Homo sapiens: one gene and its partners. The protein of the gene in region 7 purifies or fractionates together with the protein of the main gene of each other region. This does not show direct contact. Each region holds a gene or a part of one and is shown on either strand. Other genes may lie near its edges.

What was found.
Region 1: the proteins of CSTF1 (region 7) and PARN purify together in Homo sapiens (affinity purification with western blotting, with the first as the bait; one study listed by BioGRID). This does not show direct contact.
Region 2: the proteins of CSTF1 (region 7) and DNAAF5 fractionate together in Homo sapiens (co-fractionation; one large-scale study listed by BioGRID). This does not show direct contact.
Region 3: the proteins of CSTF1 (region 7) and TTC27 fractionate together in Homo sapiens (co-fractionation; one large-scale study listed by BioGRID). This does not show direct contact.
Region 4: the proteins of CSTF1 (region 7) and XPO6 fractionate together in Homo sapiens (co-fractionation; one large-scale study listed by BioGRID). This does not show direct contact.
Region 5: the proteins of CSTF1 (region 7) and NMD3 fractionate together in Homo sapiens (co-fractionation; one large-scale study listed by BioGRID). This does not show direct contact.
Region 6: the proteins of CSTF1 (region 7) and NPEPL1 fractionate together in Homo sapiens (co-fractionation; one large-scale study listed by BioGRID). This does not show direct contact.

The regions. Positions count from the first base shown.
Region 1 is NC_000016.10:14,577,563-14,581,823, reverse strand, and holds part of PARN (poly(A)-specific ribonuclease PARN), read left to right. Parts: intron 1-880; coding exon 881-950; intron 951-4,261. UniProt on the Homo sapiens protein: 3'-exoribonuclease that has a preference for poly(A) tails of mRNAs, thereby efficiently degrading poly(A) tails.
Region 2 is NC_000007.14:732,612-736,872, reverse strand, and holds part of DNAAF5 (dynein axonemal assembly factor 5), read right to left. Parts: intron 1-4,261. UniProt on the Homo sapiens protein: Cytoplasmic protein involved in the delivery of the dynein machinery to the motile cilium.
Region 3 is NC_000002.12:32,634,387-32,638,647, reverse strand, and holds part of TTC27 (tetratricopeptide repeat protein 27), read right to left. Parts: intron 3,394-4,261; exon of another isoform or gene 3,317-3,393; intron 1-3,316.
Region 4 is NC_000016.10:28,100,115-28,104,120, forward strand, and holds part of XPO6 (exportin-6), read right to left. Parts: intron 1,832-4,006; coding exon 1,733-1,831; intron 1,575-1,732; coding exon 1,344-1,574; intron 1-1,343. UniProt on the Homo sapiens protein: Mediates the nuclear export of actin and profilin-actin complexes in somatic cells.
Region 5 is NC_000003.12:161,248,050-161,252,310, reverse strand, and holds the end of NMD3 (60S ribosomal export protein NMD3), read right to left. Parts: intron 2,858-4,261; coding exon 2,751-2,857; intron 2,056-2,750; coding exon 1,985-2,055; intron 1,532-1,984; coding exon 1,401-1,531; 3' UTR 4-1,400; downstream 1-3. UniProt on the Homo sapiens protein: Acts as an adapter for the XPO1/CRM1-mediated export of the 60S ribosomal subunit.
Region 6 is NC_000020.11:58,709,337-58,713,369, forward strand, and holds part of NPEPL1 (probable aminopeptidase NPEPL1), read left to right. Parts: intron 1-3,142; coding exon 3,143-3,243; intron 3,244-4,033. UniProt on the Homo sapiens protein: Probably catalyzes the removal of unsubstituted N-terminal amino acids from various peptides.
Region 7 is NC_000020.11:56,398,913-56,403,173, forward strand, and holds part of CSTF1 (cleavage stimulation factor subunit 1), read left to right. Parts: intron 1-54; coding exon 55-445; intron 446-4,261. UniProt on the Homo sapiens protein: One of the multiple factors required for polyadenylation and 3'-end cleavage of mammalian pre-mRNAs. May be responsible for the interaction of CSTF with other factors to form a stable complex on the pre-mRNA.

The DNA of each region.
Region 1 (4,261 bases), on a different chromosome or scaffold from region 7:
TCAGCCTCCCAAGTAGCTGGGACTACTGGTGTGCATCACTGTGCCTGGCTAACTTTTTAATTTTTTTATAGAGACAGGGTCTTGCTGTGTTAACCAGGCTGATCTAGAATTTCTGGGCTCAAGTGATCCTCCTACCTCAGCCTCCCAAAGTGCTGGAATTACAGGCTTGAGCCACCGCACCCAGCCTCCTGACCCTTCTTATAAGGGCACTAATTCCCTCGTGACTTAATTACCTCCCAAAGGTCTCACTTCCAAATACCATCGTACTGGGGAGGCTTCAACATATGAATTTTAGGGGGACACAAACATTGAACCTATAGCACTACCATTTCCTTGGGATCCACTCACCCAATTAAAAGTGGGAGGGTTTTGAGGTAGGAGTGGGAGGAGATGAGGGGAGGAGGAAATCTGCAAGAAAAACCACTGACACTTGCTGTGGTATGGTACTTGGTGCGTAAGAATACCTTTCACAGGCCGGGCGCAGTGGCTTACTCCTGTAATCCCAGCACTTTAGGAGGCTGAGGTGGGTGGATCACCTGAGGTTAGGAGTTTGAGACCAGCCTGACCAACATGGAAAAACCCTGTCTCCACTAAAAATACAAAATTAGCTGGGCATGGTGGCACATGTCTGTAATCCCTGGTCCTCGGGAGGCTGAGGCAGGACAATCACTTGAATCTGGGAGGTGGAAGTTTCAGTGAACCGAGATTGCGCCATTGCACTCCAGCCTGGGCAACAAGAGTGAAACTCTGACTCAAAAAAAAAAGAATACCTTTCACACTTGTTGAACCATGCTGTTAATTTAAATCTGTTTTGGTCTGAACTTTCAGGCTTGGTCTATGTGACTATGAATAATAATACCTCTCTTCTTTTCTTCATTAGGTTCTTTTCTCAGCCCTCCAAAAATTCATGTGTCTGCCAGATCAAAACTCATTGAACCTTTTTTTAACAAGTAAGTAATCAGAGAGTTCCAGTTTCCAAGTTCTCTCACTGTGGAACAGCCTCATATCTTGGGATGTCAGTTTGGAGTTATTGGGAGCTATAACACATTTTTAGATAAGCTGTTTTTCATCTCGAGTGACTCACATGTTTTTTGAAAGTAGAAAGTGACCTTTTGGGGAACAAATGTATTAAAAATATAGGCTTAAAAAAAAAAAAGAAAACATTGCTAGACGTAGTATAGTAGATCTCTTCCAAGAAAAAGAACTGGTAGTTCTGGCATTTAAATTTCCTATGAGGGGCCGGGTGTGGTGGCTCACACCTGTAATCCCAGCACTTTGGGAGGCTGAGGTGGGCAGAGTGCTTGAGGTCAGGAGTTCGAGGCCAGCCTGGCCAACATGATGAAACTCGTCTCTATTAAAAATACAAAAATTAGCCAGGCGTGGTGGCATGTGCCTGTAATCCCAGCTACTCGGGAGGCTGTAGTGGGAGAATTGCTTCAACCCAGGTGGCAGAGGTTGCAGTGAGCTGAGATTGCACCACTGCACTGCAGCCTGGGCAACACAGCAAAACTCTGTCTGAAAAAAAAAAACAAAAAAAACAAAAGAAAATTTCCTGGCCAGGCGCGGTGGCTCACGCCTGTAATCCCCCAACTTTGGGAGACTGAGGCAGGCGGATCATGAAGTCAGGAGATTGAGACCATCCTGGCTAACACGGTGAAACCCCATCTCTACTAAAAATACAAAAAATTAGCCGGCACGGTGGCGGGCGCCTGTAGAAAACATGATTTTCTTAGCTCTTTTATTTTTTGGGGCAGTGTTTGTCTTTGGAAATGTAGCCTTTGCTGTAGACCATGGAACCCACAGGTGATTGATGTTAAATATAGTTCTTTTTTTTTTTTTTTGAGATGGTGTCTCACTCTGTCACCCAGGCTGCAATGTGGAGTGCAGTGGCACAATCTCAGCTCACGGCAATGTCTGCCTCCTGGGTTCAAGCAGTCCTCCTGCTGCAGCCTATGGAGTAGCTGGAACTACAGGCATGTACCACCACACCTGGCTAATCTTTATATTTTTAGTAGAGATGGTGTTTCACCATGCTGAATAGGCTTCTCTCGAACTCCCTGACCTCAGGTTATCTGCCCACCTCAGCCTCCCAAAGTGCTGGGATTACAGGTGTGAACCACCGTGGCCAGCTAAATATAGGTCCAATTATGATTGTTCCCTTACATTTTTATGTACTTGATGTTAAATTCATTGTTCTGCAGTATTTTTCAACTGAGAGATGTTGACTCATTTGTATTATTATTATTATTTTTTTGAGTCACGGTCTTGCTCTTTTTTCCATGCTGGAGTGCAGTGGCATGATCTTGGCTCACTGCAGCCTCCACCTCCTGAGCTCAAGTGACCCTTCCACCTCAGTCTCTTGAGTAGTCATTTGTAAATATTTACACGCTGTAAATATTAAAACAGTAATCCTGCTTCTCCACTAAAGTCAGCTCCTTATAAAATCAGATGTTGGATGCAAACTGGGTTAGATGTGGGCTGCATCTAGTTTATCAGTCATGTATGTGACCAACATGCAGAGCAATCAAAATAAACTTTGATTAAAAAGCTTAGCTGGGCTGGGTATAGTGGCTTACGCCTGTAATCCCAGCACTTTGGGAGAACAAGGCGGGCAGATCACTCGAGGTCAGGAGTTCGAGACCAGCCTGGCCAGCATGGTGAAAACCGGTCTGTACTAAAAGTACAAAAATTAGCCTGTATTCCCAGCTACTCGGGAGGCTAAGGCAGGAGAATCGCTTGAAACCAGGAGGCGGAAGCTGCAGTGAGCCAAGATCACACCACTGCACTCCAGCCTGGGCAACAGAGTGAGACTCCCTCTCAAAAAAAAAAAGAAAAAAAAGCTAGCTGAGACTTTCTGTATTTCTAGATCAATCTAATATTGCTAATACTGTGCAGGACTATTATTGAAAAGAACTAGACAGTAAATGTGTAGGCTTATTTTGAATTGGGACATCTGTCCATTCAGAATTTTTTTGTAAAACCTAGATGCATACCAAGAGTAGTTGAATAGGAGGTGGGATTTGGGAATCCTTCTGTGATTATTTTTTTGGTCTATTTTTTTCCAATCTGTAAAGGAAGAATATTTTCTTCATCATTAAAGGAAAAATATTCCTGCAAGATTTGAAATACAAAATAAGAACTGTGTTTTTTTTCTTTCTTTTTTTTTTGAGATGTTGTTTCACTCTTGTTGCCCAGGCTGGAGTGCAATGGCGTGATCTCGGCTCACCGCAACCTCTGCCTCTCGGGTTCAAGTGATTCTCCTGTCTCAGCCTCCCAAGTAGCTGGGATTACAGGCAAGTGCCACCATGCCCGGCCATTTTTTTGTATTTTTAGTAGAGATGGGGTTTCTCCATGTTGGTCAGGCTGGTCTCGAACTCCTGACCTCAGGTGATCCACCCGCCTCGGCCTCCCAGAGTGCTGGAGTTACAGACGTTAGTCACCGCGCCTAGCCAAGAACTGTTTTTATTCCTCTTTTTTTTTTTTTTTTTTTTTGGTGAGACAGAGTCTCACTCTGTCACTTAGGCTGGAGTGCAGTGGCGTGATCTCAGCTCACTGCAACCTCCACCTCCTAGGTTCAAGTGATTCTCCTGCCTCAGCCTCCTGAGTAGCTGGGACTACAGGCTCGTACCACCACGCCCTGCTAATTTTTGTATTTTTAGTAGAGACAGGGTTTCACCATGTTGGCCAGGCTGGTCTCAAACTCCTGACCTCAGGTGATCCACCTGCCTTGGCCTCCCAAAGTGTTGGGATTACAGGCGTGAGCCACCATGCATGGCCTGTTTTTATTATTATTTATTGGAATAACTTGGTTAAGTATAGGCATTCATTCTTAACCCCCTTAGAAAGTGGGTTTTATGGCCAGATGCGTTGGCCTATGTCTGTAATCCCAGCACTTTGGGAGGCTGAGGCGGGCGGATCACCTGAGGTCAGGAGTTCAAGACCAGCCTGGCCAACATGGCGAAACCCTGTCTCTACTACAAATACAAAAAGTAGCTGAGCGTGTTGATGGGTGCCTGTAATCCCAGCTACTGGGGGGGCTGAGGCAGGAGAATTGCTTGAACCCAGGAGGCAGAGGTTGCAGTGAGCCGAGATTGCGCCACTGCATTCCAGCCTGGGCAACAAGAGTGAGACTCTATCTCAAAAATAAATAAATAAATGTAAGTAAGTAAGTAAGTAAAGTGGGTTTTCTGGACCAGGTGCCGTGGCTCATGCCTGTAATCCCACCACTTTGTGAAGGTGAGGAAGGAGGGTTGCTTGAGCC
Region 2 (4,261 bases), on a different chromosome or scaffold from region 7:
GCCACAACAGATACACACACACACAAAAAAGAAATTAAAACATACCGCCAGAGAAAATCATCTTCATAAAAAGGAAAACAAGAAGGCAAGAAGGAAGGAAGAGCAGACCACGAAACAACCAGAAAACAACAAAACGGCAGGAGTAAGTCCTTACTTATCAATAACAACATTGAACGTAACCAGACTAAACTCTCCATTCAAAAGACAGAGCGGCTGAATGGGTAAAGAAAAACAGGACCCAGCAATCTGTTGCCTACAAGAAATACACGTCACTAAAAAGGCACACGTAGGCTGAAAATAAAGGGATGCGAAAAAAGATATTCCATACAAATGGAAAGCAAGAAAGAGCAGGAATAGCTACACTTAAGACAAAACAGATTTCAAGACGAAAACTATACTAAGAGACAAAGGTCATCATATAATGATAAAGGGGTCAACTCAGCAAGAGGATATAACAACTTTAAATATATATGCACCCAACACTGGAGTATCCAGATATATAAACCAAATATTACTAGAGCTAAAGAGAGAGACAGACTCCAACACAGTAACAGCTAGAGGCTTCAATGCCCCACTTCCAGTACTGGACAAATCATCCAGAGAGAAAATCAACAAAGAAACATCAGACTTAATCTGTACTATAGATCTAATGGACCTCATAGGTATTTATAGAACATTGCATCCAACAGCTACAGAATACACATTCTTCTCCTCAGCACACAGATCATTTTCAAGGACAGACCATATGTTAGGCCACGAAACAAGCCTTAAAACATGAAACTAGAAATTAATAACAAGAACTTTGGAAACTACACAAATACATGGAAATTAAATAATATGCTCCTGAATGACCGGTGGGTCAATGAAGAAATTAAGAAGGAAATTTTAAAAATTCTTAAATGAAAATGGAAACACAATATGCAAAAACAGCAAAAGCAGCACTAAGAGGCAAGTGTATAGCAATTAGCACCTACATTCAAAGAGCAGATAACTTCAAACAGCAACCTAACACTGCATCGTAAAGAACTAGGAAAGCAAGAGCAAACCAAACCCAAAATTAGTAGAAGACAAGAAATAAGAGCAGAAATAAATGAAATTGAAATTAAAAAAAATACAAAAGACCAACAAAATGAACAGTTAGATTTTTGGACAAGCAAAATCAACACACCTTTAACCAGACTAAGAAAAAGAGAAGACCCAAGTAAATAAAATCAGAGATCGAAGAGGACATTACAAACAACTGATACTACAGAAATTCAAAGCATCATTAGAGACTGTGAGCAACTACACTGTGAGCAATGACATCGTGAGCAGCGACACTGTGAGCAGCTACACCATGAAGAAAACCGTGAGCAACAATATCAGCAACTACAATATGAGCAACGACACCATGAGCAGCTACACCGGGAGCAGCTACACCATGAACAACTACACCGTGAGCAGCGACGTTGTAAGCAGCTACACCATGAAGAACAACACCATGAGCAATATGAGCAACTACAATATGAGCAACGACACCATGAGCAGCTACACCGTGAGCAGCTACACCATGAACTACACCGTGAGCAATGACATCGTGAGCGGCGACACTGTGAGCAGCTACACCATGAAGAACAACACCACGAGCAACGGTATGAGCAACTACAATATAAGCAATGACACCGTGAGCAGCTACACCGTGAGCAGCTACACCATGAGCAGCTACACCATGAACTACACCGTGAGCAATGACATCGTGAGTGGCGACACTGTGAGCAGCTACACCATGAAGAACACCATGAGCAACAGTATGAGCAACTACAATATGAGCAACGACACTGTGAGCAGCTACACCGTGAGCAGCTACACCATGAACTACACCGTGAGCAATGACATCGTGAGCAGCGACACTGTGAGCAGCTATACCATGAAGAACAACACTATGAGCAACAATATGAGCAACTACAATATGAGCAACGACACTGTGAGCAACACCGTGAGCAGCTACACTGTGAGCAACTATACTGTGAGCAACTATATGCCAATAAATTGGAAAACCTAGAAGAAATGGATAAATTCCTAGACACATATGACCTACACAGATTAAATCATAAATCCAAACCTTGAACAGACCAGTAACAAGTAATGATATTGAAGCCGCAATGAAAAGCCACTGAGCAAAGAAAAGCCCGGGTCGCAATATTTCACTGCCAAATGTTATCAAACGTTTAAAGAACTAATGTCACTCCTACTCAAACTATTCCAAGAACTAGAAGAGGAAGGAATACCTCCAAACTTAATTTATGAGGCCAGTACTACCCTGATACCAGAACCAGCCAGATGCAATCGAAAAGGAAAACTACAGGACAATATCCCTGATGAACACTGACGCAAAGTTTCCACTGTTTCAACAGCACATGAGAAAGATCATTTGTCATGACCAAGTGAGATTTATTCCAGGAATGCAAGGATGGCTCAACATACACAAATCCATCAATGTGACACATCATATCGGCAGAATGAAGGACAAGAACTACGTGATTATTTCAAGTGATGCTGAAAAGTATTGATAAAATTCAACATCCCTACATGATAAAAATCTTCAAAAAACTGGGTATAGAAGGAACACACCTCAGTACAATAAAAGCCATATACAAGACTCACAGCTAGTACCACACTGAATGGGGAAAAATTGAAAGCCTTTCTTCTAAATCTGGAGCAAGACAAGGATGCTCGCTTTCACCACTGTTAGTTAACACAGTACTGGAAGCTCTAGCTAGAACAATTAGACAAGAAAAATAAAGGGAATCCAAATTGAAAAGGAAGATAATTATTCTTGTTTGCAGATGATATAATCTTACATTTGGAAAAACCTAAAGATTCCACAAAAAACCTATTAGAACAGATAAACAAATTCAGTAAAGTTGCAGGATACAAAATCACCAAAAAAGCCCCAGTAGCATTTCTACATGCCAACAGTTAACAAATCTGAAAAAGAAATCAAGAAAGTAATTCCATTTACAATAGCTACAAACAAAATAAGATACCTAGGAATTAACTTAACCAAAGAAGTGAAAGATCTCTACAATGAAAACTATAAGGCCAGGCGCAGTGGCTCACACCTGTAATCCCAGCACTTTGGGAGGCTGAGGCAGTCGGATCACGAAGTCAGGAGATTGAGACCATCCTGGCTAACATGGTGAAACTGTCTCTACTAAAAACACAAAAAATTAGCCAGGTGCGGTGGCAGGCACCTGTAGTCCCAGCTACTCGGGAGGCTGAGGAAGGAGAATGGCGTGAACCTGGGAGGCGGAGCTTGCAGTAAGCAGAGATCGCACCACTGCACTCCACCCTGGATGACAGAGCGAGACTGTCTCAAAAAAAAGAAAGAAAACTATAAACCACTGACATGAGAAAACTGAAGAGGACACACACAAAAAATGGTAACATACTCCATGGACTGGAAGAATCAATATTGTCCATACTACCCAAAATGTCCATACTACCCAAAGCAATTTACAGACTCAACGCAATCCCTATCAAAATACCAATGACATTCTTCACAGAAATAGAAAAAATAATCCTAAATTTATATGGAACCTCGAAAGACGTTGAATAGCCAAAGCCATCCTGAGCAAAAAACAAAACAAGACAAAAACAAACAAAAAACTGGAGGGATCACATTACCTGACTTCAATTTATACTACAGAGCTACAGCGACCAGAACAGCTTGGCACTGGCATAAAAACAGACACACAGACCAATGGAACAGAATAGAGAAGCCAGAAATTAAATCCATACATTTACAGTGAACTTATTTTGACAAAGGTGCCAAGGACATATCTTGGGGAGAGGACAGTTTCTTCAATAAATGGTGCTGGGAAAACTGGAACTCCATATGCAGAAAAATGAAACTGGACCCCTATCTCTCACCATGTACAAAAATCAAATCAAAATAGATTAAAGACCTCAATCTAAGACCTCAAACTATGAAACCACTAAAAGAAAACATTGGGGAAACTCTCTGGGACATGGCCTGGGCAAATGGGATCACATCAAGTTAAAAAGCTTCTGCACAGCAAATAAAACAATCAATAGTGAGGAGACAACCCACAGGATGGGAGCAAACAGCTGCACAAATACCCATCTGACAAGGGACTGACAACCAGAATCCATAAGGAGCTCAAACTCAATAGAAAAAAATCTAATAACGCGATTTAAAAATGGACAGATCTGAATAGACATTTCTCAAAAGAAGGCATACAAATGGCAAACAGGTACT
Region 3 (4,261 bases), on a different chromosome or scaffold from region 7:
CCAGCACTCTGGAAGGCCACGCGGGTGGATCACCTGAGGTCAGGAGTTCGAGAACAGCCTGGCCAACATGGTGAAACCCCATCTCTACTAAAAATACAAAAATTAGCCGGGCATAGTGGCACATGCCTGTAATCCCAGCTACTCAGGAGGCTGAAGCAGGAGAATCGCTTGAACCTGGGAGGCGGAGGTTACAGTGAGCCGTGATCATGCTACTGCACTCCAGCCGGGGCGACAGAGCGAGACTGCCTTAGAAAAAAATAAAAAACAATAAATAAAAGAGAAAGAAGGAAATAACTGTGAGTTCATCCTCTGTCCTATTTTCATCATCATTCAAGAGTGTAATAGAGGAATAAAGATTTAATATGAATTACCTCCACAACCACAAAGCCTACTGTTATCTCTGCTAAGCATACAAGGAATTATTTAAAAAAAAAACTTCAATAATTAATGAAATATTATCAAGTTTTTACAACTGCCTCAATTTTAGAGGTGAGGAAACAGATCCATAAAAATTAAGTGAAGCCCATGTTTCCAATTCCCAAATCAATTCCCAAACCAGCCCACGCTGGTAGAAAGAACATTGGTTTGGGAACTGGAAACAGATCTCTCTACCTCTTCCTGCCCCTCAGGAAGGGCTAGGGCTATGCTAAGCATTTGGAGAGCCTCAAGGACATGGCCAGGATGACTTTTAGCCTTCTGACTGGCACTACACCATGGTGGCGTGTGTAACTGAAATACAGACACAAAAAGAGAAGACCTTCATCATGAGTTCAGTCTTGGACATGATGAGGAAATGAGGTATTCTGTGAGAACCCCAACTGGAGGTACTGAATGTACAGTGAATATACTGACTTGAGAACTCAGAAGAACCTGCCTAAAGTGCCCAAACTAGACCTGCAGCCTCATCGGATCATGTTGTAAATTCAAGTAGATATAACAAGCTGATTTCCTAAAGCCCAAGCCAAACTGGTAAAGCACAAGAAGATAATAAGGAATGTCTTTAAGAAAGAGAATCCTGGCCAGGCCCGGTGGCTCACACCTGGAATCTCAGCACTTTGGGAGGCTGAGGCAGGCAGATCATAAGGTCAAGAGCTTGAGAGCAGCCTGGCCAATAAGGTGAAACCCCGTCTCTATTAAAAAATACAAAAATTAGCCAGGCACGGTGGCGGGCGCCTGTAGTCCCAGCTACTCAGGAGGCTGAGGCAGGAGAATCACTTGAACCCGGGAGGCGGAGGTTGCAGTGAGCTGAGATTGCGCCACTGCACTCCAGCCTGGGCAACACAGTGAGACTCCGTCTGAAAAAAAAAAAGAAAGAAAAAGAAAAAGAATCCTTCTCCTAATCACTCTGAGACAAGAAATATGTCTGCCTGTTCTACCACAAATTTCAGGTCATTATCTTCTACATGAATCCCTAAATATAAAGAACAAACAAGTAATTTAACATAGCAACAAATAAAAATTATACAGGGAGACAGCACATGGTATACTATCTGGAGAGCATTACCTGTGACACTCAAGCTAGGTTGTGAGTACAAAGGAGATTTATTATTTAAATTGTATACATTTCATATGCTCTTTTAAGTGTTGGCAGTAGTTCCAATAAAAAAGTTAAAATCAAAGACTTAGTCAAAGTTTCCTACAACTCCAAATGACCTCCATCAAGTGATTTTTCACTGCTAAAAGAGGCAAGTTCAAAGCATCCTTTTCCCACAAACACTATGCTGTCCTCTCCTCTAAATTCCTGCTCATATGACTGCACCTAGAATGGATATTTTCCTCTTCTCTATCCATTTTCTAACCATCCTTCAGGTTCTAGCTCAAGGTCCACTTCCAACTAAAAGGTCTTCTTTGACAAAATCCAGCTTCCACAAATCTCTTTGTTAATGGCAATATTTCTTATGGTCTGAACTTCTCATGAAACTCATTTCCATATTGTTTTGATTTGCTACCTGAATTTACAGGTGCTTCTACACTAGTATAGAAGAGTACTGGATTTGGAACCAGAAAATGTGGATTCCAATGCCCCAGCTACAGATCTCTGACAAGATTCTTTTACCACTCTGAGCTTCAGTCTTTTCACCTATAGATTACCTCAAATCTGTAAGGACCAAATTGGCACAAGAAATGTGAATTAAGGCCAGGCGCAGTGGCTCACACCATAATCCTAACACTTTGGGAGGCCGAGGCGGGTGGATCACCTGAGGTCAGGAGTTTGAGACCACCCTGGCCAACATGGTGAAACCCCGTCTCTACTAAAAATACAAAAATTAGCCGGGCGTGGTGGTGAGCACCTGTAGTCCCAGCTGCTTGGGAGGCTGAGGTGGGAGAATCATTTGAACCCGGGAGGCAGAGACTGCAGTGAGCCGAGATCGCACCACTGCACTCCAGCCTGGGCGACAGAGTGAGACTCCGTCTCAAAACAAAAAAAAAGAAATGCGAATTAAGTACCATTCAAACCACACATCAGTGTTCAGGAGATATTTATGGCTTTGGCTGTTTGGTGGATTTCTAATCTATACTATAGGGCCATAGAAGCCAGAAACTGATTCATACATAATAAGAGAGGGAATGAGATGTTTCCTAAGTACATTTCTAGATAACTGAAGCTTATCTCTTTAACTGCTACAATCATTTAGGGTTTGGGGTTTTTTTACTCCCATTTTGGATGAAAACCTCTGTAGAATATAAATTATAAATTCCCTTCATAGACATAAGACACAAAACATCTTTTAACCTTTCAGTTATAATTAGGATCAGCATTATGGATTAAAATTACTCTAATGAAGTATATATAGTGACTCACTAAGCTGATATGCAAAGAGTTAATTATTGTGGTTTTCACTTTATGCTTGTTTTTGCACTTCTTCTCTTTCTACCCCCCCATCAAATTATTAACACATATCTCTAATAACTCTATTCCACATTTACTTGCTACACCCAATTCTTTTTCTTTTTTCTTTTTTTGAAATGGAGTCTCACTCTGTCACCCAGGCTGGAGTGCAGTGGCGTGATCTTGGCTCACTGCAACCTCCGCCTCCCGGGTTCAAGCAATTGTCCTGCCTCAGCCTCCTGAGTAGCTGGGATTACAAGCGTGCACCACCACACCCGGCTAATTTTTGTATTTTTAGTAAGACGGAGTTTCACCATGTTGATCAGGCTGGTCTTGAACTCCTGACCTCGTGAACCGCCCGCCTTGGCCTTCCAAAGTGCTGGGATTACAGGCATGAGCCACTGTGCCCGGCCTACTTGCTACACCTAATTCTGAGAAACCAGGTAACACTAGGTCTGTTTTGCTGCACGAGTTCTGGATACAATTTGGTGATTTTGAACATAGCTATCAATCACTCAGCTTTTTCCAGGCTGAGTGGTGGATAGCTACGTTCAAAATCACCAAAGTGGCTGGATAAATCAAAGTTCTTACTTTGATTTAAACCATACTTCTTTTGTAGATCATCTCATACTAGCCAGACCCTCTATATAGGAGCTCAAGATTCCTGAGGAACTCAAACTGCAAGCTCTATTGGCGACACACTGGCACAGATCGATAATATTATCTTCACAATGGATAATAATCACCATGAAGCAATGCTGTGCCAGAAACTTTAATAAAGTATTTGTAATTTAAAGCCACCCCTGGGAGCAAACCACTCCTGGGAGCCATTCTTAAGTACAGTATCAAAACTTACCTGCAAGCCGGGAATGGTGGCTCACGCCTGTAAACCCAGCACTTTGGGAGGCTGAGGTGGGAGGATCACTTAAGGTCAGGAGTTTGGGACCAGCCTGGCCAACATGGAGAAACCCCACATCTAGTAAAAATACAAAAATTAGCCAAGTGTGGTAGCACACGCCTGTAATCCCAGCTACTAGGGAGGCTGAAGCAGAAGAATTGCTTGAACCCATGGGGCAGAGGTTGCAGTGAGCTGAGATCGCGCCATTGTACTCCAGCCTGGGTGACAGAGCAAGACTCTGTCTCAAAAAAAATTAATTAATTAATTAGTTAAAAACTTACCTGAAATAAAATTAAACAGATTTCCAGATTTGCTGCTTTGCCATTAAAGATCTTTATGTACAGCGCTCACACCTATAATCCTAGCACTTTGGGAGGCTGAGGCAGGCAGACCACTTGAGCCCAGGAGTTTCAGACCAGCCTGGGCAACATGGCAAAACTCCATCTCTACAAAAAAATTAGCTGGACATGTTGGCATGCAACTGTAGTCCCAACTACTTGGGAGGCTGAGGTGGGAAGATCGCCTGAGCCTGA
Region 4 (4,006 bases), on a different chromosome or scaffold from region 7:
GCAGCTGGGATTACAGGCGTGTGCCACCACACCTGACTAATTTTTTTTATTTTTAGTAGAGACAGGGTTTCGCCATGTTGGCCAGGCTGGTCTCAAACCCCCTAACCTCAAGTGATCCGCCCGCCTTGGCCTCCCAAAGTGCTGAGATTACAGGTGTGAGACACCGCGCCTGGCCTATAACTAGATTTTGAAACCACAGCTTTAAATCAAAAAGTTGACTGATATTGATGTCGTTAGAAGCTGATCATTAAGTATTAGGATCTGGCCTCTAGAAAAAGGAAAAAACATATCCAGGGGCTGAAGTGAACTGGAAGAGGCTTAGGAGAGAACAAGTCCCAAGAAAAGGAAGACCCCAAGACAAAGGAGAACAGGATGAGTCTAAGCAAAAGCTTCCCTGCCACACGTGGCAAATGAGGAAAGCAGGCGGCCAGGTTTGCACCAGTGAGAGCAGTGTGTGCATCTGAGCACTACGGTGGAGCCGTGGACAAGCTGCTTCACAGAGGACTCAGGTCAAGAACCCCAAGAGGACCAGGGAGAAAGCGATTTCTTTTCCTAATTTCATCAAGTATAAAACGGTACAAGGAAAAGTTCCCAGAAGTTCCTATCAGGCAAGAGAGAGGCCTGGTCACCTGACACAGGAAGAAGAGAACAGGTGAGCCCCATGGGGAAGGAGGTCCCAGGCACTGTCAGGCTCCAACAAGATGGCCTCATGGACACCAAGAGCCAGCAGCACCCAGCTCCCACCGAGGTGCTGCACGGGTGGGGACAGCCCACCTGACAGTCCCTGCACAGGTGGCAGCAGTGGGACAAGAGGGTGAGTACTAGGAGGGCTCCTCCCAGGACCTGGCAGCAACTCAGCCCAAGCTGAGCTGGGGCTGGTCTGGAAAGAGCCCAAGACAGCCGGGGAACCTGGGTCCCACCTCTAACCCTGGGGACCCAGAAGTGCAGCTCCCAAGCACCAACCATCTCAGCCTGAATGCAAGCCTGGGCACACTCCAATGCTGGCCCCACCGGGGCTCATCACCCAGGAGGGAGAACGGCAGGGTCCTGGGTATGAACAAAGATGCCAAGACAAATGGAGGGGCTGCAGAGCCAGGAACTCGGGACCTCCATGGCTGAGACTAAGAACATACGTGCTACAGACACCAAGACTGGGGAAAAGGCTGTGCCCCTCAATCAGGCTACAGCACCAGGTCAGCAGGCATCTCGTGAGCTGCCGCCAAGCTGCAGGGTGGGCACAGACCACGCCCAGAGGCCTCAATGTGCCCCCTCCTTGCTGCACAGGTGCCAGGCTTGCGTGCCCACTCTGCCCTCCTCTTAGCCCGGCCTCTTTCTCTCCTCACCCGATCCATCTTGAAATTCCGCCCCAGCACACTTTTCTGGTTGGCATCCACACCATCACAGCTGGTCAGGAACTCTGGGAGGAAGGCGGCAAAGAAGCCATCAAAGTCGACTGAGGCCATGTTGTAGATGGCGATGCCAATCTCCTCCTGCAGAAGATCATGGGACTTGTGGACCAGGACCTGGAGCAGCACGTTCACAAACTGGAACAGCATGGCAGTCCGGAAGATCTTCTGCAGGCAGAGAGACCAGGTGAGCAGCAGCCAGCCCCCAGGGGCCTGTCCCGGGTCCCATCCACTTTCTGTCACACTCTCCAGTGAGTAACCTGAGGGTGGGACACAGGCCACAATGCCCCTGATGGAAGAATATTTCCAAGAGCTGGGGCACTTACCTTGTGGTACAGCTTCTGCTTGGTGTTGAGAGTCTCCAAGTAGAAGAGATTTTGTTTAAAAAGGTGGATGTCGGGCTGGAGAAAGGACTGTCCGAAAGCCTAGGAAATGAGACCACCATTTTATAAACTGCAAGACCAAGCACTTCTGGAGCATCTACCCCATGTCAGAAGAACAAGTGCCAGGGCCAGGGTACCCATTGTCTTGATGCTTCTGGCCCACCAGCTCAGACCTCTACGACGCTCCTCCTAAGTCTCAGAGTTCATGTTTTCCCCACCGGGCCTTGCTTCTTATTATGGTCTCATATATACCTTTTTTAACAAACCTCTAGAAACCCATCACAGGACCTGGCTTTGAAGCAAGAAGCTCACACCTCTAGTCAAATCCCTCAGCAATCCTGGCAGACAGACACCAAAGCCTGCCTGCCTGCTCCTGCTCAAGCCAAGCAATCCCCTCCCTTGCCCTCCTTCTTGCATCCCCCGTCTCAAAAGCCACAAGCCCTACAGGCTCCTTCATGGAGCCTCCACCTGGAGGTTAAGCCTCTGCCTGGGGGCTAAGCAAAGTATTTTTAAACTGCTTTGGAATTCCTGGGTGTAAAAGTTACTAGTTCAGTCCAGGCACAGAAGCTCAGTCCTGTAATCCCAGCACTTTGGGAAGCCGAGGTGGGCGGATCACTGAAGGGTGGGAGTTCAAGACCAGCCTGGCCAACACGGTAAAACCCCATCTCTACTAAAAATACAAAAATTAGCCAGGCGTGGTGGCGGACGCCTGTAATCACAGCTACTCGGGAGGCTGAGGCAGGAGAATCACTTCAATCCAGGAGGCAGAGATTGCAGTAAGCTGAGATCCTACCACTCACTGCACTCCAGCCTAGGCAACAGAGCAAGACTTATCTCAAAAAAAGAAAAAAGAAAAAAATTACTAGTTCAGGGGCAAAAAGAAACACCCCGCACACCAACACAAAGTGCCCTGCTCCAACAGAAAGAATAGAAAGTGACCATGGGGGCAGTCGGGGAGGCCGGTGGTCTGCAGGACCCCCCTACAAAACAAGTGGTGACTGCTTTGTCATTCTGTCCCTGGGCCCCTAAGCTACCAGAGGAGGATCTTGTAATCCCTGCAGCAGGGATGAGATCTCCATGATGACCAATAGTTTCCACTTATTTACTGTTTAAAGTTAGGTTCATGGAAGTATAACAGAGTAAACTTTTGAGGTTTATCTTTCTATGAATTCTGACCTACCTGTGGATTTGTACCACCACCATCACAACCAAGACAGGACACTTCCATCACCTGGAACGTCCCCTCACACCCTCACCCCTAAGGCAACCACTGCTCATTATCTGTCCCTGTGGTTCTACCTTTTCCAGAATGTCATAGAATGGCATGGGATCCTACCATGCATAGCCTTTGGCATCTAGCTTCTTTCACCTGACAGAATGCATGTGAAACTCATCTATGCTGCTGATTGTACCAAGAATCCATGCTTGCTTATTGCCGAGTGCCAGTCCCTTAGAGGCATGCACGAGCCTGTTCATCCATTCAGCTGCTGGATACTCAAAGTGTTTCCAGCTTTGGCAATTATGAAACAGCTTCTATAAACATCAGTGTACAGGTTGTGTGAACATATGCTTTCATTTATCTTGGGTAAAATACTTAGAAGTGAGACTGCTAGGTCATACAGTAACTACACACTTAACTTTAAAAGAAACTGCCAAACTGTGAAACTATTCTCCAAAGTGCCTTTCACCAGCCCTCAGTGGGGACCAGGCACCAGCGTGCCAAAGAAGTCTTCCAGGCAAGGACAGGGTTCAAGAGAAAGGCAGGGGAGGCGCAAACACTTGAGTACTGCAGACCTGAGGCCTCGGTGGGTGCCAGGGATGGGAAGGCCAGGGCAAGGGCACGTGCCTGAAAAGAACTGCCACACAAGAGTCAGTATGTGTGTGTGTGCGCGCGCATGCGCACGTGCATGCCTGTGTGCATGCTGTGTGCTAGTAGGGAGCTGGAGGGAGGGTGGAAATCCCTCTTGCTTCCCCATGAGGAAAAGCATGCACTGAAAATACCAAAAGAGACTCCCCTAGCTAGACTCAGATGAGAACGTCAGACACTTGAGTGCAGACCCTGGGAGCGTGCCTGACACAGCCACAGAGCAGGCTGGCTGTCTGGGCGAGGTGATGCCGTCCCAGTCTTCCACAGCAAGGGGTATTTAGCCCCCAGACAGTGCACTCTCTCCAATGGACAGCTGCATCTGCCCTGAAAGCGAATGCTCCCTCCCAGGG
Region 5 (4,261 bases), on a different chromosome or scaffold from region 7:
CCATTTCAAACACACGAAAAAGGGCAAGAATGGCTTTATTTTCATGCTTTAAAATATCTTGACACGGAAGATGTAAACACAGACCACCAATGAGAACTTGCTTTGGTCAATCTTACCTTTGAAGAACTAGGACAAGCCATTCCTACCAGGCCACCACCAAAGACAGGATATGGCTTTTAGATCCACAATTTTAACAAAATATGCAGACAGAAAAGAAGCCACTATAGAAAATTTAGGACTTTATCCATAATTTCAAAATTGGAAAGTCCAATATTAAAAAAAAGAAAAATGTTCCACACAGTGGCACTTGCTCAATCTCTTTATTTAGTGGCACACATGGAATGAATGAATTAGCTCTTACTTGCGGCATACTTAACAAGTCTGATCTTGCTTATAGAAATTGGATCTTAATACTTCATTCTCAGAATACTTCAAAACGTAAGCCACAGTTTTTCTTTCAAGGATGTGGGAAGCATTCCTCATTCAAATCTGATTAATGGTTTTATAAAGTATGTACCTCATTTTTATTAGCCATTATCTTCATGCTGGATTCTAATATTCTTTTTAATGGTGATCTGTTCAATGACAGAAACTTATAGAGAGAAAATTCCTTCTCAATTTATAAACAAAAATTTTAAAAGCAGCATTTTTGATGTGGTAGGAAGATATTTATGACAAAAGCAGCTACTGCCCTAAACTGGCAAAAACAACAAAAGAACAAATTGTTATTTAACCTTTAAATAACGAGTCTCTATTTGCTATAAATCTACAAATATTTTAAATATATTTCCTCCTACTGCAATAAAAATTAAGATAACTCTCTGTTTAACGGCTTTTGAAGAGTTAATTTTATAAGGAAATAAAAAAGATTGACTTGCCTCCTGAATGTCCAGTGATAAACTGAACCCTAATTTCCCTACCTCAACAACATAAAAATGATGTAAAGTGGATCAAAGTATGTAACAAGTTAATATTAAAAATGCTTCTTCATATGGTCTTTCACTAAAATAATCAACGTAAAAATAATGTAAAAATGTGTTTTTGCTTGAAGATTTAGTGAACGTTCAAGGAATCACAATTTTTGAGCTTTTACATCCAGAGTACTATACTATGTGAAAATACTACAGTGCCTCATATAAAAAAGCACAGTGATAAAATTCCAAATGTAAAATTGCCAAAAATCAATAACAACTACATTCTCCATAATCTTTCCTTATCTAAAACCTCAAAGCTATCCATCTGTTTTAGTGGTTTGAGTGAGCACTGAAAACAAACATGTTTATTCAGGTTTAAAACTAAATTTCTCCTCTTGAAATCTGGAGGCAAAGATAGTAGAGACACTTAAGGTAACTCTGTCCAACTTCTTAAGCCCATGTATGGAAACAGTCTACAACATCTCATTATGTCAGCATTGATGCACCTTCTTCACCAGTGGCATCTTGGGAAATATGAAGGTCTTCAAGCATCTCAGCCAGACTAATTCGAGGTGCTCCTTCATCATCGGTGTCACTTTCCACAGGGATGGCTGAATCTAAAAAAATACAAAGAGAATAAAATAAATACAAAGTATTTATATGTATACAAAGTATTAAATATATTTGAAAATATACAAATATCTACCTTATCATTATTATTATGTAACTACATTGTATCAGAAGCTCTTGTCTCTTACAGCAGTCATTCAAATTACATTCACTGAACAAATGAACTGAGTAACTGTAAGAATATACTTCCACCACTATAGGAGTGAGCAACTTAAGGGATCAAGCTAGAATGCAAATAATACTAACTGTAATATACAAAACAGTATTTTGTTAAGTTTTATTTATTGTTTTGCAAGTTTTTTTGTAGAAGTGTGACTAGAGTAGTTGAAAAAACAATTAAAGACATTTATGAGAATCAAAGCTTAAGATACCAAAATATTCATACTAGGAACTATACTTATATACAGAACAAATGACTTAAACACTCCTAGAACACCAACCTCTGTAAATGTTGACATTTTTTCGAATTGCCTCATCTTCTTCAAGATCTTCAAGAAAATCTTGGTATTGCCTTTAAATAAACATTTAAATATTTCATCACCAAAAATATAGTTATATTTTCTTCATTTAAGGACTTTCATTTTAAGGACTATGTAGACATACTGCTGTTTCCAACTCACATTTCATGAAACAATTTTATATAAACTCTCAGTTTTTTTAGACATCGGTGTCTTCACCATCATTAAAGCCACTTTTTGAATCATCCAATAAACTGTTTTAGAACACTGTCTTCATTTCTGCTTAAATTATTTGAGGAATAACACACTTGGCATCAATGAGCTGTTTCCTTTTTATCTCAAGCCATAAGTACTCATCTGCTATTTGTGATATTCATAATGTAATTATTTATTATAAAGTCATGTGCCACATATTCTATGATGCTCACACAACAAAATCACCTAATGATGCATTTCTCAGAAGGTATGCCCATTGTTAAGCAAAGTATGATTATATTTTAACTTTTCAAATGAATTGTTTACATTAACACTACAATTATTAGGTCATAAACCAGGAAATAATTACTAAATCTGTGTTAAATGTCTTTACATCATCTTATACTGATTCCATTAATACCTTGATAAGAATCCAAGATTATAATTGAGTGCAAGGATCAATTGTGTGATGCCTATTTCTTTACAACATAAAAAGTATTTATCATAAATATTTCCTTTGAGACAACATAAGAGATTTAAAGAAAAGCGAGACCTTTCATCATCTGTATCCATGTTTTCTCTCTCTCTTGCAAGCTCTTTCAATTTCCAGTTTCTACGACGCTGACGTTTGGTCCGGTCATAGCTCTTCTTGATTAATACCTGCAAGATAAATATTTGTAAAGTTACAAAGAATGGGAACTATACAGTGAGGCCACAAAATTCAATAAAGCTAAAAAATGACCAAACTAATGACACTGGTTACACCTCAGGAGAAAGGAGAAGGGATGGAGAGACAGTGTCAAGAGGACTTTTAAAATTTTTCTCCATGTATTTAACTTTTTATGAGAATGGATTCAAGCATTATTTGTACAATTGTTAAAATTTGCTAAAATTTTTCAGTGACTGAATACTGTTTTTCTTAATAACAAAAACTGTAGTTTTCTTTTAACTCAAACTTCAGTTTTCAGCTACCATTCATATAAATCATTCTGAATATCACAAGTAGATACTTTTTTTCTCTTATACCCACCAATAAGCATTTACAGAACTATATATAACTTTCACAACAATGTATCTTAGAACGCTTGTTTAATAAATTATAGAATGAAAATAATTTTACAAAATACAAAATATTGTAAGATTGCCATGATCTCCTCTTATGACCTTGTTAGAAATACCTATTTAGACTTACACTCCAACCACGCTGTTAATTCCTAATTTATCAACTAATAAAAGTACAACTGGGCAGGTGGTCGGAGTCCTTGATTTGTCATGGCTCTACTTTTTTTGCTCACTGCTAAAGAAATCAATGTTTATTCTAAAAGATTAAGCAAGTATAGAAGACAGGGTCTTTCACACTAATTTCATTCAGTTTCTCATGATTCTTAACCTCATCATGTTAGAACTTAACAGATTTTTCAGAATTAATAGTTTTTTTCCAAGGCTTGATACTGTGAAGATTATTTTTCACGGATATTTTATTCAGCTTTGAATAACAGCCTTAACTCTAAATGCCTTCTTAACTGAACAATGTATGTGAAACGAAGTGAGCCTAATAAAAATGAACCTGAAAAAATGCTAAATGTCATCATTTTTAGCTGCAAATTTATTTATTTATCTTTTGGAGACGGAATCTTGCTCTATCACCCAGGCTGGAATGCAGTGGCATGATCTTGGCTCACTGCAACCTCCACTTCCCAGGTTCAAGCAATTCTCCTGCCTCAGCCTCCTAAGTAGCTGGGACTACAGGTGCATGCCACCACGCCTGGCTAATTTTTTGTATTTTAGTAAAGATGGGGTTTCACTGTGTTTTCCAGGCTGGTCTCGAACTCCTAAGCTCAAGCAATCCACCCACCTCAGCCTCCCAGAGTGCTAGGATTACAGGCATGAGCCACCGCACCCGGCTAAATTTATTTTTGCTCTACAGATAATATCAGGTATTTTGATCGAGAATGAAAATGTGATTAGAAAAGGAACAATCACAATAAATCTTGGATTTACCCCACCAAGAAAAATTATTTAAAATGAAGCCAGGCATGATAGGTGACACCTGTAATCCCAGCT
Region 6 (4,033 bases), 2.3 Mb from region 7:
ACCCAGAGAATAAAATCAGCATCCACGTGTCCACACTGGTAGGAATAGATCACTGAAGGAATAAATGAATGGGGGAGAACCGTTTCTCACACTGAATCCCAGTTTCAGGCTGCAGAGGTAGTGATGGAAACAGGAAGTCGTCACCCCACAGCCAGGCTTCATTCCAGGTGAGAGTGGCCCACAGTGCTGGAACTGGAGCATGAGAGTGGGATGGGAAGAGGACAGTCAAATGCTCTCAGAGTGCCTCTCGCAGCTTTATAGTGGTGACACTCACAACCCAGCCTAACCAGGTGTCCCAGGGCATGTCACCAGGGCAGGGACAGAGCCACCTGACATGCCTCCAGAGGCAGTGTACAGGGAAGGACAGAGCATTTCTGCAGGATTCCCACCAAAAATGCATGGCCTGCCTGTAGTCACAAGGACACGTCAGACAAACCCAGCACTGAAAGTGCCAAGGCCACAAAAGACAAAGCCAGACTATGCAGTCGCCCAGATTAAGGAGGGCAAGCAGGCCAGGCTTGATGTGTGGTCTGATCTGATCTGGACGTCTGAGGAGCACATGGAATCTGGATGGTCCCGAGAGGTGATGGTCCTGTGTTGGTGATTACTACCCCCTGCTGCCCATTGTCCCATGGCTGGACAAGATGCTGACATTGGCAGAATCTGGGTGAAGGGTGTTGAGGAATTGTTTGTGGCTTTTTTTTTTTTTTTTTTTTCCCCGAGATGGTGTCTTGCTCTGTTGCCCAGGCTGGTGTGCAGTGGTGCGATCTCGGCTCACTGCAACGCCTCCCAGGTTTAAGTGATTCTCCTGCCTCAGCCTCCAGAGTAGCTGAGATTACAGGCATGTGCCACCACCCTTGGCTAATTTTTGTATTTTTAGTAGAGACAGGGTTTCACCTTGTTGGCCAGGCTGGTCTTGAACTCCTGACCTCAAGTGATCCGCCCACCTCAGCCTCCCAAAGTGCTGGGATTCTGGCATGGGCCACTGCTCCTGGCTGTTTGTGACTATTTCTGCAATTTTTTTGTAAGTTTGAAATTATTTCACAGTGAAATGTTTTGAACTTTTTAGAAAGAGGATGTACCATTCAAAGATGGAAGGGTACGCCAGGAGCTCGGTGGCCCTGGGCTCTGGGGGTGTTAGCGACCCTCCAAGCCTGGCACCAAAAAAAAAAGCCCCTGACCCACTTACCAACCCAAAACCCTTGGCCGCCCTGGGGGACCAGGCCCAAGCCCTGGCGTAGCACTGGAGACCCTTCCCACGCTGTCGCTGAAGCACTCACAGTCCAGCCCCATCTTTGGCCACCCTCTTCTGTTAGACCAGCAAGTCCCAACTGTGCCAGGTAACACCCAGGAAGTGTGTGAACATTGACAGCTCCAGGGCTCACCTCCAGCTCTGCTGAGTCTTGGATTTTTTCAGCCGCTCCTGGTGATTGGAGAACACCTCCAGACTGGCCGTGAGGGCCGCAAGGGCAGGGCCGTGCCTGTGCTGTCTCTGTCTCACGTCTTCCAGCCGTGCAGACCTCAGCACTGTTTGCCCCAGGACTGCAGCTCGCTCGTCTTCTAAGCCAGCACTTCTCAAGTGGGGTCCCCATGTTGTTAGTAATATGGGTTCTCAGCTCTGCCCCAGACCTGCTGGATCAGAAATTAGGGGCAGGGCCCAGCCTTCAGCGGGTAGCAGCCCTCCCTGGGAGGCTGAAAGCATCCATTTGGGAATCCTCCTCCTCCCCGCTCCTCCCTCCTCCCCCCCCGCCTCCTCTCCTCCTCCTCCTCCCCCCCTCCTCCCCCTCTCCTCCTCCTCCCCACGCCCCAGCAGGCTACAGATCCAGAACTCTGCTTTCTAGGAGGACTTCAGGGCTCCCCTCCTTTGTTGGTGGAGCTCATCTCTGTGGCGTCCATGGCCTGGAGCCCCATGGCCTCATCCTGTGACCTCAGGGTCATGCTGTCATTTATTCGTTGTTCCTAAACACCCACTTCTCCCTGGAATGACCACAGGAGGCCTCAGCACAGGGACAGGCCGTGGTCACTGTACACACAGATGGAATGTCAGTGCTGGGGTATCTGGGGAGGAGCTCTGAGAGGAGGAGGCTGAGGGTCCTGAAGCCCCTGCCCCGTGTCCCTGACACAGGCTGGGCTGCGAGAGTGGGAGCGGGGGACTTGGGGCCCTTGTGGAGCTGACAGGTGGCTCCGATATCATCACCCTGAGGCTGGTGGGGTTCTTTCCCCTGTGCTGCGTGGGGGTGCGGGGCCATCTGTGAGGCTCAAGGACTGAGCGGGGACCCAGGGAGGTCTCAGGGACTCGCAGCTGCCATGCCCAGCACCACTGCTGCAGCTCCTGCCACTGGCCACTCCTTGCCCTGCTGGCTGCCCCTGCCCCACCATCCCAAGTGTTTGCCTTTGGTGAGGGCTCTGCACCCGTGGTGGAAGAGTCGGCTGTTCCAGGAGATGAGAAAGACGCTGGATCCTATAGAGCTGTGTGTCCGCGCTCTCGAGGCATGCTCCATGCTAGGAGGATGTATTCTGGTTAAAGATTCGTCTGCGGGAGCAGAGGAAGGGCAGGGACAGGGGTCTGGGAGCTCTACTCCATTTGACATTGCTGCCCGGGTGTGGCCCGCTTCGGGGTCAGGGGGCACCCTTAGAACCTGTGCAGGGCAGGAACTGCCACCATCTGTTGGCCACACATTTCTCAGTGAACAAATGACTTTTGGCATCAGAAAGCCATAACTTCACACCTAAACTTCCACGAGGCTGAGCTCTTCCTGCCCCTCTGTGTGTGTACGTGTGTGTGTGTGTGTATTGAGGGGACGCGGCTGCTGGCCACCTTCTGTCGGCACAGGTTGGCGAGGCTTCATGACTGCCCAGCCCATGCAGTCCAAGAGTCCCACAGCCCAGCCCATGCCCAGGCTCATCCACTGCGGCGGGTGGCCTCTGCCAGGGGAGGCTAGGAAACCCCAGTGGTGAGCCTTGGCCTTGGGATCTGCCAGGACTGTACCCGGGATGGCAGGGAGGGCGAGCTTTGGTCCCTGCAACTTGGAGCCATCTCTCTCTCTCCTGCTGTCTGTGGGTCTGAGAACCCCCAGCTCGTCCTCCCCCCTCCCCAAACCTATGACCTACAACTGGAGCCTCTGCCCACTTCTCCCTCCAGGGTTTCAAAGACAACCTCCACGCTGTGTTCTGCTTGGCTGAGAACTCGGTGGGGCCCAATGCGACAAGGCCAGATGACATCCACCTGCTGTACTCAGGGAAGTACGTCTGGCCCTCCCACTCCTTCCTGCCCACTGTTGGAACTCGCGACCCTTCCCGGCCTGCAATGCCAGCTCACTCCAGGCATATCGGGAGGGCACTCAGCGTTGGGGTCCCCTGGGCAGCAGGCTCCTTGCTTCCCGGAGGGCTGGGGAGCTTTGGTAGCAGGCGCACCTCACGTTGAGGGGCCCATGGCACCTGGATGAGGTGCTAGGCTCCCGTGCAGTGCCTGGCCCAGGAGCTCGTGGTCTACCCTGCATTACCAGGACAGGTCTTTCCAAAATTTAGGCCTGAAATCTTTGGGTGTGTGAAGCTCTGACCCCCAGATTCCCTGCTCGGGGACACCTCCTGCATCTCCCCCTTGAGATTGACCCTGGAAAGTCAAAGCTGAGCTGGCAGCTGAGGAGCAAGTGGCTCCAGAATTCAAAAGAGAAGAGCCCTCTCCCCAGCCCCATGAGCTGGTGCCTGAGTGGGCGCCTCCCCGCATCTCCTGCTCTTCCTCCCCATCTGCCGGGTGCCAGGCACAGTGTGCTGAAGGCCAGCCCAGCCGGTTCATGCCACCCACTTTACAGAAGAAGAAACTGAGGCATGGGAGAGCCAAATGGCTGGTCTCTGGCTCTCCAGAGCAGCGGGGCAGGGATGTCACCTGGAAGCCCTTTGCTCCAGGCACTGCATTGCTGTAGGGACTGGGGGCATCCCGGCCTTCCCATTCAGGGAACGTGTTGGGGTTCGGGGAGCCACAGGGATGGGCAGCTCCAAATGGGGTCTCCCCAGTTTCAAAGGGGCTCATGCC
Region 7 (4,261 bases):
TGGATTTAATTGTTCACCAGTTGGTCACTTGTATTAATGTCTCTGTCCCAACAGGAAGCTGAAATGTTACGTTCCATCTCTTTTCATCCTTCTGGAGACTTTATACTTGTCGGAACTCAGCATCCTACTCTTCGCCTTTATGATATCAACACCTTTCAATGTTTTGTCTCTTGCAATCCTCAAGATCAACACACCGATGCTATATGTTCCGTTAATTACAATTCTAGTGCCAATATGTACGTAACTGGAAGCAAGGACGGCTGCATCAAATTATGGGATGGTGTTTCAAATCGATGCATCACAACTTTTGAGAAAGCACATGACGGTGCTGAAGTTTGTTCTGCCATTTTTTCCAAAAATTCTAAATACATTCTCTCAAGTGGAAAAGACTCTGTAGCTAAACTTTGGGAAATATCAACGGGACGAACACTGGTCAGATACACGGGTATGTGAGACGTTGATGTTACTTAACATTTCTGTAGTGTTTACACTTTCCAGAACTCTCTTTTAAGACCTCACAATAGAGCAACACAATATCTATGCATTGAGCAAGGCAGATGTTACCCTTTCTTAGATAAGAGGAAACCAAGACTTACAGGTTAAGTCATTTAGCCAAGGCTACACGACTTGGAAATAGAACGGTGCTTTCTTTGCTCTTCTGAGCACCTCACACCGTGGACTAGGGCTGGATTCCATGCAAGTAACATTTGAGAACCTGGTGATCCATTTGTAGACTGGCATGCCCTCTTCCCACAGAAATGTGAAAGCAATCCAGAGAAAAGTTTCCAATAGTAGATCTCAGTATTATTAATATATGTATTCATGAAAGAATGGCTGAGAGGGAAGATCTTATCCCATTCCTAAGAGAGCAGACCTAGCCCGCAAAGGAAACCACGTTAATTCTGAATGCAGATATAAAGTAGGCTCAGCAGACAGAAAAAAATTGCATCCACTGAATTCTCATTTATGTATGTTGGTCTCATTGGTAACAGTAGTGCCTGTGGAGTCTTTTTATAATGAAATCCATTTAAATTTATCCTATCACTAGTAGGGCCCAAGTCTGGTTATTTGATAATGAATGTTAAAACACTGTCTTCTGTTCCTTGTAGCAGCAAAGACTGTTGTTTGGTAGAAAACCTCCAGAAAATTTCTGATTGTTTCTTCCATTGTGAGATATGTTTGTATCATACACTAAAATTGGCATGAGCATAACTCAAAAAAAATCACAAGAAAACAGTATTGGAAGGGACTGGATTGTGTTTAAGTTTGCATTGAAGAGTCAGTGACATCTGACCCACTAGGGGGCAGCATAACTTGCCTTAGATTTGTCTCATTGTAACCAAAGTTCCCTTCCCCAGCCATCTTTCTGGCTTCTGGTACCACTAGCAAATCTTAGGAAGAGCCATTTTTATCATAATTCTTGGTGACTTCATTGAAACACTTGTATAAAGTTGTTCTGAAAAGTATTTATTATAAAGAACTACTTTATAATAGTTGTGTTTGTTGCAAAAAGAAGATAAAAAAGTGATCAGGGTAAATGTGAAAGTACTCCCCCTATAGAAGTTATAACTGTTTTAAGGAGTGTGCTGTATCTGGACAGATACACACCAGCCTACTGACAATAGCTTATATATTTGCTCTAGGAATGTTTTGGGTGTTTTATAATAGTATGAGGTTGATTGGCTTGTTTTAGTGGGGAATAGCAGTGTGGTTTTTCAAAAATGTGATTATGCTGAATTTATGCACAGATTCCCCTTTTCCTTTTTTCTCATTTCACAGGTCAAGCGCCTGTCATGTCAGCATGTTAAGATTTCTGTTCCCAGTTTTAATAATTAGTTAGAATTTGGGCCAGGCGCGGTGGCTCACACCTGTAATCCCAGCACTTTGGGAGGCCGAGGTGGGCAGATCACAAGGTCAGGAGTTTGAGACCAGCCTGGCCAATATGGTGAAACCCCGTCTCTATGAAAAATACAAAAATTAGCTGGGCTTGGTGGCGGGCGCCTGTAGTCCCAGCTACTTGGGAGGCTGAGGCAGGAGAATAGCTTGAACCTGGGAGGTGGAGGTTGCAGTGAGCCGAGATTGCGCTGCTGTACTCCAGCCTGGGCGACAGAGTAAGACTCCGTCTCAAAAAATGATAATAATAATAATTAGTTAGAATTCAGAGGGTTTTTGAAATGATGAAAAAGGAAAAACTATCAAAACTTTAGAAATTGGGATGCAAAAAATTAAAAACAATATAAATAACATACAGGACTGGGAGAAAATGGTTATAGCATATATACAGATGTTAGACATTGAGTTAACATCCTTAATCTATAAAGAGAACTCATATGGGAAAAAGATGAGTCCAAACTCGAGAAAAAAGGAGCCAAAGGACAGGGGGCTGCAGAAGAGAAAAATGGTCAGGAAATGTAAGAAAAGGTGGCCAGCCTTGCTGCAGACCCAAGAAATGAATATGGGGACCTGGTTTTGTTAATCAGATTTCAGGAGTCTTAAAGATTTATATTATCTACTATTGATAGAGATTTCGGGAAATCATATTTTGTTGGTCAGAGTCAGCTGGTAAAATATTTCAGCACAGTTTGGTGTCATATCAAAATTTTAAATACACGCTTTTTGACCCACTATATCTACTCTTAGAAATTCAACCTAAAGAGGTAATTGGACAGACATGCACATGCCCATAAAAGGATGTGTGTCCCAACATCATTTGGAGTGGCTGAAAGTTAGAAACAGCATAAATGTCCAATAAGAAGCACTGAGGAAATCTGTTACGCATCCATGGACAACATACACCTTTAAAAATAAGTATGCATGCTAACATGGGCTGAGCACTCGCACTCCAGAGCCTCCTTTGCATTCTCTTATTCTTAATCCTCACAGCCTTATGGGGTAGGTTCTGTAACTACTCCATGGAACAGATGAGAAAATTAAGGCTGAGGAATGTTAAGTAATTTGCCCAGGGTCACATTAGTGTTGAACCCACATCTGACCACACAGACTTTGTGTTTTTATCCACTAAGCTGTATTCTGTCTTTACAGATCTGCACTACATATGCTTGAATATTAATAGTATATGACAAATGCTCTGACTTAAAGAAGTTACAAATGAAGCCAGGGACTGTGGCTCACACCTATTATCCCAGCACTTTGGGAGGCCAAGGTGGGCAGATCATCTGAGGTCAGGAGTTTGAGACCAGCCTGGCCAACATGGTGAAACCCCATCTCTACTAAAAATACAAAAATTAGTTGAGTGTGGTGGCACATGCCTGTAATCCCAGCTACTCAGGAGGCTGAGGCAGGAGAATCTCTTGAACCCAGGAGGCAGAGGTTGCAGTGAGCCGAGATCACACCATTGCACTCCAGCCTGGGCAACAGAGTAAGACTCTATCTCAAAAAAAAAAAAAAAAGAGAGAATTTACAAGTGAGCACATAACACTTAGATATTTCGAAAGAGTATTCACCAAAGTATTGACTGTTACCTCTGATGGGTGCAATTATTAGGCAGTTTTTATTTTCCTTTTTATACTTTATTTGGTACTTTTAAACATAAAATATGTAATTTATAGTCATAAAAAGGCTTCCTTTTGGAAAGTAGATATTCATATACTTTGTCTCAGTAATTCTGTCTCTAGGAATTTACTCCTAAGGAAATAAAGCTTTCTGTACAAAGGATGTTCATTACAACATTACTTATAATTGATATAAACTAAATGTCAGGAAGTAAAAGAATTGTTAAACAGGCCGGGCATGGTGGCTCACACCTGTAATCCCAGCACTTTGGGAGGCCGAAGCAGGTGGATCACAAGGTCAGGAGATAAAGACCATCCTGGCCAACCTGGTGAAACCCTGTCTTTACTAAAAATACAAAAATTGGCTGGGTGTGGTGGTGTCCACCTGTAGTCCCAGCTACTTGGGAGGCTGAGGCGGGAGAATCACTCGAACCCAGGAGGCGGAGGTTGCAGTGAGCCGAGATCACGCCACTGCACTCCAGCCTGGCGACAGAGTGAGACTCTGTCTAAAAAAAAAAAAAAAAGATCACACACAAAAGAATTGTTAAATAAGTAATGGGGCTTCTAAACATGAGGCACTTTGCATCTAGTAAAAAACATGGAAAAATGTACTCAGCATAAAGTTGGTTAAAACTATAATAGAAAAATATAGTGGCAACAATTTTATATGTATTTTTAAAATGTGTTTTTTTATGCCTCAAAGTACATTAGGACAGTAACAGTATTGCTTCAGGTGATCTGGTGATCTC